2 linked regions of the Homo sapiens genome follow. The protein of the gene in region 2 interacts with the protein of the main gene of each other region in a pairwise test. Each region holds a gene or a part of one and is shown on either strand. Other genes may lie near its edges.

Evidence for each region.
Region 1: the proteins of CNTN4 (region 2) and BTG3 interact in a two-hybrid assay, tested with the Homo sapiens proteins (one large-scale study listed by BioGRID and IntAct).

Annotation. Positions count from the first base shown.
Region 1 is NC_000021.9:17,602,781-17,606,591, forward strand, and holds part of BTG3 (protein BTG3), read right to left. Parts: intron 2,218-3,811; coding exon 2,080-2,217; intron 1,497-2,079; coding exon of another isoform or gene 1,365-1,496; intron 1-1,364. UniProt on the Homo sapiens protein: Overexpression impairs serum-induced cell cycle progression from the G0/G1 to S phase.
Region 2 is NC_000003.12:2,097,434-2,101,941, forward strand, and holds the start of CNTN4 (contactin-4 isoform a precursor), read left to right. Parts: upstream 1-1,432; 5' UTR 1,433-1,545; intron 1,546-1,840; exon of another isoform or gene 1,841-2,731; intron 2,732-2,882; exon of another isoform or gene 2,883-3,124; 5' UTR 3,125-3,206; exon of another isoform or gene 3,207-4,508. UniProt on the Homo sapiens protein: Contactins mediate cell surface interactions during nervous system development. Has some neurite outgrowth-promoting activity. May be involved in synaptogenesis.

The sequences.
Region 1 (3,811 bases), on a different chromosome or scaffold from region 2:
AGAATGTCCGTATAACTAAAGTTTTTATGTTCAGGTACTGAGACTTATTTTAAGCATTTTAAATACATAGGTCCAAAATGTTTATATAATTATGTAACTTGTTAAACATCCTTGGACATAAAAACTTTCCCCTGATGGTTTAGGATCATTATATTGAACGTAAACTATTTGATTGTGTGATAACATAATCGTGCTGATTTTTTAGCTTTTTCATTTTTGCCTCTATGTCAGACCACATGACATTTTTTGGTAGCGTCTGACTCATCAACCCTCTTTAAAATGCTGCTTCTCACATTTCATGGGTTAAGAAACCACACAACTAACTTAACTGTGTGTTAAATAGGAGCCAACTAGGATCTAAGTGCAGGTCAAATTAAAAAGTAAACAATTCAATATAGTAGCTTTTTGACAGCTATTTCTTATAAATGGAGGTCTTCTGCACAGGTTCAGTGGCCAAAGTTTTCCAAGTCTGAAACTAGCCTAAAGCAGGTCCTTAATTAGTCCCAGAATCTAAAAATGTTTATTTTCTCAGACCTAAATTTGAGATAGCTTGCTCCTTTTCTACCCGAGAAAGAAGTATTGGAGAATGTTTATCACAAACCTCTACCACCTACATCTGGTTTCCAAAAGCAATAAACTTACACCAACCACTGGCAAATCAGGTAGTAACCTCAAGCGGTGGTCCTGACAAAATTTAATGGAAGAATAATCATGTAATTCATCTCTCCTGTCTTCACCTCCACCTTCATTGCTGGAATCAGGTCAGTCTGCGACCACCTTAGGAGTACATAGTTAGGGTTCCTTCAAAAAGCAACTTTACTACAATCAATAAAGAGGCCAGGTGGTCAGGTGAATTGTACCTCAAAACCAAATAGAAACATCCTAAAGGCAGAGCCACAGGAAAATTCTTGCAGGAATTCCATGCCTCTGTTCATCTTCTTCCTGCTAGTTAGAACATCCTTCCCACCTTGTCACCTGGTCAACCATGGCTCATCCTTCACCTCCCAGCTCAAGTATCACCTACTCAGTAGTCTCCTGACTCCTCACCAGATGCAGTAACTTTCTACTTTGTGCAACCTACCACTGCATTTTGTACACATTTCTAACATAAATCAGATAACAATGTAATTTGCTTACTTTTCTTCTCAATTTCAAACTGAATTACCTAAAAGCAGAATGTTGCTTTCGTTTTTGAAAACCCTACAACTGAGAGTGCCTGGTCCACAAATAATGGTTTTTGAGCAAGTGGAGTTCAAAAAGATTTCATACCTAGCACTGATCTTTCACAACTCTATTCATTAGGAGATGTGAAAAATAACTTCCATTATAAAAATAAAACCACGAAGTATCACTCAGTCACTTACATAATCAAAAAGGAGGAGGCCGGGCGCAGTGGCTCACGCCTGTAATCCAGCGCTTTGGGAGGCCAAGGCGGGCGGATCACGAGGTCAGGAGTTTGAGAGCAGTCTGGCCAACATGGTGAAACCCCATCTCTACTACAAATATAAAAAAAAATTAGCCGGGCACAGTGGTGGGCGCCTGTAATTCCAGCTACTCAGGAGGCTGAGGCAGGAGAATCACTTGAACCCGGCAGGCAGAGGTTGCAGACAGCCAAGAATGCACCATTGCGCTCCAGCCTGGGCAACAAGAGTGAAACTCCGTCCCAAAAAAAAAGAGGAGAGAGGGAGAATAAACAGAAACAGAAACAAACCAAAAGTGGTTATCCAGTATTATTTGGGATTAGCTTCTTAATTTGAAGACAGACAAGTGCACCACCAATTAAAGATAATAGACACCTAGCGGAATCTAGGTGTCTACTTCTTGGTCTACAATAAGCTTCTTGGCAAAGCACTACTAGAAAACCCCCGCCTAATCAGTTTCTTTTTTCGGCTATAAAGCAGAAATCTAACTAGTCCTTCAACATCACCTCCAGAAAAGTATTTCATAAAATTTACATCTGAGAGAGTTAAACCACCAGCTCCTGGCCATAAAGATACACAGGCAGGCCGTACATGACAGAATGTCATAAAATTAGTTCCAGCATGGTCATCAGTTCAGCCTCTAAACTTGAGAACTCACCGACAGCACACCTCACATGGGTCCACCCAGAGAGTGAGCTCCTTTGGCAAGCCCAGGTCACTATACAAGATGCAGCTGTTTTCACAGGCTTTCAGGACATCAGGATCAACTCTCTGAAATTTATTGACACGAATACATCTACAACAAAGTGGAGTTACGTTAATGGATTTAAATGAATTTAATCATAAACGCCGTAATATCTATTCATACTTGCCAAGGTGAGTAATAAAATAGTAATAAAAAAATACCCTGGTAGAGAACCTAGGAGCATATCTATCCTAAACAGATAATAAATGTGAACTACAGGCACAGAGGCAGCCTGAAAAAAAGATGGCACCTATGTGAGCCCAAGGAAATCACTAGTACTGGGTCTACCTCAGTCTACCCAGAGACTTGACCACCCATGTACATTAAATGAGCACGGAGTATGAAAGTTGCACGAAATTTTAGAACTCTGAAGGTAAAAGTTTCTATAGGCCAAGTTCCTATACAAAAAAATCTCTAACAAAAGGCCTCATCTAATGTTTCAGATGGTATTTGGAAATGCTTACGACAAATTCTGATCTGTCATTAACTTGCTTTTATATCTCAGATAGTAAAGTGGTAAGAGGACACCCTTGCTTTACCTATAATTGTTCTATAAATACAGGATAAGTGAAGGACACAGATTCATTCATATCATATACTTATGATTAAAATACCTAACTAACATGTTATTGGCTTATTTCATTTAACTTCTATTTACCCAAGCACTTTTATTTAAATAGTTGTCAAAATTAAGTGAGGAAAATTTCTAAACCAATAAAGCCTCTGTCCCATCTTTTTTTAACCTATTATACGACATCTACCTAATGGAATGTTTAATAAATAAAAAATATGCATTCTGTTAAATGATAAGCATTCTGATTAAGTAGGGAAATAGGGCCTATGAAGGAAAAGTATTTACTGCCTACAATCAAGAATCAATCAAGAGAACTTGGATTTCAGCACTAATCCTAGTATTTATCAGGTAAGCCTAGTTAAGTCACTGTACCTCTTCCTCAGACCTGTAACTATAAAACATGGAAATACAAGTTAATTGATGAATAGTAATTACGCTGTAAAATACAATGATATAAAGACTAATGTGCTATTTAAAGTTTTTGTAAAAGTTAAATTATTAGTTGGTTTTAATTTCTATTTAAAAAATGAAAAAGTTCTCAACAGGTAATAGGAATAAGTGTTTCTACATAATAATATTAACAATAATAAGCATTTTAAAAAATTTATTATGCAATGGACAATTTCCTAAATGCTTTGCATGTATTAACTCTTAATTCTCATGATCATCCTGTGAGTTAGATACTTTTTTCCTCAGCATAAAGAAAAAAGGAGGCAGAGAGAGTTTGAGTAACTTCCCAACATTACACAGCTACTAAGTGATGGATCTAGGGTTCAAATCCAGGCCACTAGACTCCAAAGAGCAAGTTATTTCCTTAATACTCAACCCTGTATATACGTACCTATCTTAGCGTCACCATTAACAATATAACAAAGGCAAAGTGAGAAAAATTATTTTCTAGTATGTAAAATACTGCTTAGTCCTTTTAAAAACATGGTCTTATGCTATAGATTCTAATATTGTATAGGGTAATTTGAAAGATCCCATGTGCTCTGGGACCAAAAGCAGTTAAGGATAAAAAGATATATCTTAGATGTATGTGTTTTTCTTATCTACAATTAAGGTGATACA
Region 2 (4,508 bases):
ATTTGACCACAACAATACCTATCACTAGCCTGGTTTTGCCCACTTCTCGAACAGGAATTATAAAGATAATAATTAATTCTAAAAAGCAGAAGACAAAACAAACAAACCAAACCAACACTGAATGAACTAATAAGGCTGCTGCATATATATGTTGGAGTTGGATGTTTATTTGCTTACTGCAGTAGTTTAAAAATAGTTTTCCAGTTAACATCTTTTCCACATAGTGGAGATGTCAGGGTAGGTTTACATGATTGCGTAAATGGTCAGAAGTTGTTTATGTAGCTCTGAACTGCTGAGAGATGAGCAGGAAGACCTGGGTTCAGCAAAACCCTTGGGGCTTTTTCCCAGAGAGAGAAACAGAGGCTCCTCTCTGGGTTGCTGGAATGCTTTCCAGACGAATTCGACTGGGTTGGCTTTTCTCTGCCTGTCAAAGTCACTTTGCACAGTGCTGGTGAGGGGCTGGGGCATTGCTGCCAATCTCTACGGTTACCCCGAGGTGTGGAGTTGCGGCGAAGGGAGCCACTTCTGCAAGGAAACAGTAGATTCATAATGTAGAATGACCGTGGCAACGTCGTTCAAAGCACATTCTTTCGAATAACAAGGCTTTCGACATGCCCCACCCCCGCGCACAACACACCACAAATTGATCCTTGTACCTAATTTACAGCAACTGTTCCCTCTGACCTCCCCCCGCCCCCGCCCCACATTCCAACCTGAAAGCACTTTGCGTGGATGAGACTTCAGGTGTGTAACGCAGCCTGTCCAGCCAGTGTCCTCCGCCTAAGGACAGGCAGGTAAAAACCTACCAAAGCCCCCTCTTCTGGCCTAAGTTCAATGCCACCCGCCCACCCACATTCCCCGGTTCAGCAATTTTCAGCCCAGACGCAGAAGCATCTGTTTCCCTGGCCAGGGCGCCTTAACGATCCCCCGAATTCCGCGTCTCCCGGAGGCCAGAGGTTTGGGTACCCAGGAAGGTCGCGCCTCCTCGTGCCCCGATACTCGGGTTGTAAAGGGAGGAGACATCGCCTCGGCGCATCCCTGGCCGCTGAACAACGCAACCCCTACGTCCCCGCACGGGAATCCGGCTGATAATCTCCTCTTGCCTGAGAATCGGGCCAGGCGCCCTTTACTAATTTCGCGCGCTGGGGACCTGGGGCTGCCGCCTCTCGGCCGCGCGGGGCAGGTGCTGCGTCCCCAGCGCTCGCCTCCTCCGGCCGCGCACTGAGCATGCGCGGGCTCCGGGCCTCCGGCGCGTCTCCCCGTCCCCGCTCGTCTCCCGCCCGTTCCCACCCGCCCGCGCCTCTCCCCTTCCCCGAGCGTCTCCCCCGCCCCGCGGCTAAGGAGCCGGCAGCCCGAACTCCGGCGCGCCAGGTTTTTCCAGCCGCCGCGAGCGCCGGGAGGGAGGGCAGCGCCGCGCCAGACGGAGCCCGGGGTTCGACGCCAGGATTGGCTGCAAGTAGGGAGCTTTCGCCGCCGCCCCGGGCCCCTCGGACTGTGCCGGCGCCGCACCCGAGGCTCTCGCCAGCCCGGCGCCCCGGTGCTGAGGTAAGTGAGGCGGCAGCTGTGCGGGTCCGGCTCCTGCGTGGGCGCGCGATGCCCCGGGGACGCGGTCGCGGGTGTGGGGGGGAAAGGGCAGGGTCCGCGCGGGTTGCCCGAAGGACAGGGGCGCTTCCCGGGGCTCTGACTCCCGCGGGGCCGGGCAGCGTCTGCGGGGCCGTCCAGCTCAGAGCCCGGAAGCCCTGCAGGGTCGGGGAGCGGGAGCTGAACGCCTGAGCGCGGAGGACTCAGGGCCCCGACGACGCCACCGTCACCCCACAGCGACCCTTCTTCTCCTTCTCAGCCGGAAAATAAGTTTGTTGCGCTGCGAGGCAGCCACAAAACAAGGAACCGAGAGCCCGGAATGCTGCGGGAAGCCTTCAAGTCAGCTCCTCCGACTGGTTCGGGCTACTGCCCCCTCTCCGTGCGCCCTGGCCTCTGGCGCCGGGTTCCCGGCGGGGCTTTTCTTCTGACAGCCCAGTCACAGCCCGCAGCAGAGGGACGCGAACCTGGGGAGTGGAGGGACCTGGGACTAAAGGAACAGGAGCCCGTAGCCGTGGTGGAAGGAGCCGCGTGGAGACGGAGGCTGATGTCTGTGGCGCCCGCTGGGTGCCGGGCTGGCTGCTGAGCGCTGAGGCTGCGGCGGCGAGCGACAGGCCAGGTGCCTGCTCTTAGGGAAGGTACCTGGCTTCCCCAGTCTCTGCCGCGGGAGCCTGTTGGGTGGCATTCGTTTCCAGCAACTTCTGGGGGGTTTCCAGTTTCTTTCGAGAGGCAAGACAACCGCCCCGTCCCCTCCCCGGGCCCAGACGGCGGCGAACTGTGCGCCGGGCGCCCCACAGACCCCAATCCACTCACTCTCCTTCTGGAACGCGGGGCTCAAAATCTTCGTGCATTTTCTCTCTTGTGCTTCGTGTATATGTTTTACTATTTATGAAGGGTGTGGAGGTGAGGGTAGGAGGACGTGGGCTCCTGAATCCCTCTGAACCAGCCAGAGAGTCGGCTGCATGGAAACATTTCGCAGCGAAGCTCCTGCGAGGAGGCGGCTTCGCGCGTCGGGAAGATCAGGCGGTTGCTTGCTGGCCAGGGTCTGCAGATTCGGTGCGAAGAAGCTGGCGGAGGTTGTGTAGGGCGAGTCAGTGTGACTGAGCACCCTGGGTGTGTGGTCTGCGTGGAGGAGAGTGGGCCGGATCTTGAGGTGTGTTGGAGGTTTATTTGTAAGAGGAGTTCCTGAAAGGAATGTCGTGGAACTTTTTCTAGTTTTCCTGCTGGAATCAACATAGGGGCGGGCACATGTTTGTCAGAATAACAGTGGCATTTAACTGCATGGGAAGCTCTTTCAATTTTCTGTAGTGGGAGCTGGATAGTTCAAGGAGTAACTCCACATAACTGAGTCGTTTGGATACCCACACAAGATAATTTGGAACGCGCTTGTATTTTTTTGTTTTTTGAGATTTCTGGTTTATGTCCTTTAGAGAGTGGGGTAGGAGCGTAAAGACTGTATAGGTTGCCTATGAGCAGGTCCATACAATAGCGTTCCCAAGTCTGCCTAATAGCAAGTTTGTTCTCTCTTTCTCTCTCTCTACCCAAGTGGGTGAAAAAGAACAGTGTGTCATGAAGACAGGCACCTGGAGGTGATTTGGGTGGCATTCATGAGAAAATTCACGTTACCCGTAAGTTTATTCTTGCTATTTTTATCTTGATTTCTTTAAAGATTTTGTGGGAATATCTGCAGTGGGTCGCAGGAGTAGGTAAGATTGCTAAGGATCAAAAACAAGTTTCATGAGAATATTATTTTTGCTACCTTATAAAATAGCTATTGATTTGTTTGTTGAAGCTGGTTTCAACTGCTCTGTCTTGTTGAGGAGAGATGATGCTGATAAACGTCATTATTTTTCCATCTGAACCCTGGGAGGTAGCTGGCAAGGATGGAAAAACTGACCTTTTCAATTAAAGACTAAGAGTCTAAGAGAAGTGACTTGGATAAGGGTGCATGTCAGAGCCACATGTAAGTTTCAACAGAGGTAGATTTTCCTATTTGCAGTTTTTTAAACAACACTTTTCAGTTTCTTTGAGTTGTAAAACTTTTCAAGTCAATTGGGAGTCAATGCAGTACCTTTTTCCATGGTCATTTCATATTGGCAGGTAATTAAGAGTGATTAGAGAACAAACCTTTCAAATGATGTTGGATTTTTTATCATTCACTTATTTTACCTACTTCTCTCTCCTTTTTGTTCAAAAGTAGGTCTTCTGATTTCTTTTCCGATCTAAGCACTAAATCTTTTGGCTGCAGTTTTTCTTCTGAAATGTATACAGGGCATCCGTTCCTTCAATTTAGGTCTTAAAAAAATAAAGCTGCTCAGCAGAAAATTCCCATGCATGGTACTGACTTTTCTACAAGTTTGTCTGATCATGATTTTAACTTGTTGTTTCTTCTTTGTTATATTTGAGGACAGACATAATATGCATTAGCTTCAATCTCTCTTATCTTAAAAATTAATATTTTGTAAAAACTTGCTTTTATATTATTTTAGTTGAATAAGTCTATTTCATATGATAGGCAGGGGGAAGTCTCTACACACTGATTTTTTTTGTTCCTTTTTGTTCATTTTTCCCTGTAATGCTATGTTTTAAGCCTAGTGAAGGAGGCAAGGAGGCAGGATTTACTGCCTAGATTTATTGATCTTCATTATTATTATTATTTACTATCAGAAGAAATCTGACAACATATCAATAAAATTTATTTATAAACTGAAGACATGCTGTTATATGATACACTACTTATAAAACACACAAAGAAACAAAAAAGATGAATAAAGCAAAAATTATGAAATAGAAGGTCTCATGTTGCTGTTATGTATCCCGGTGGATCATTTTGTACAGCCCCTGGGGTGTGTAGCACACTTTAAAGATCACTGCTGGTTTGATATTTTTAAAATCTTTCTCTCCTTATCTCTGCTCTGCTGTTCATCATC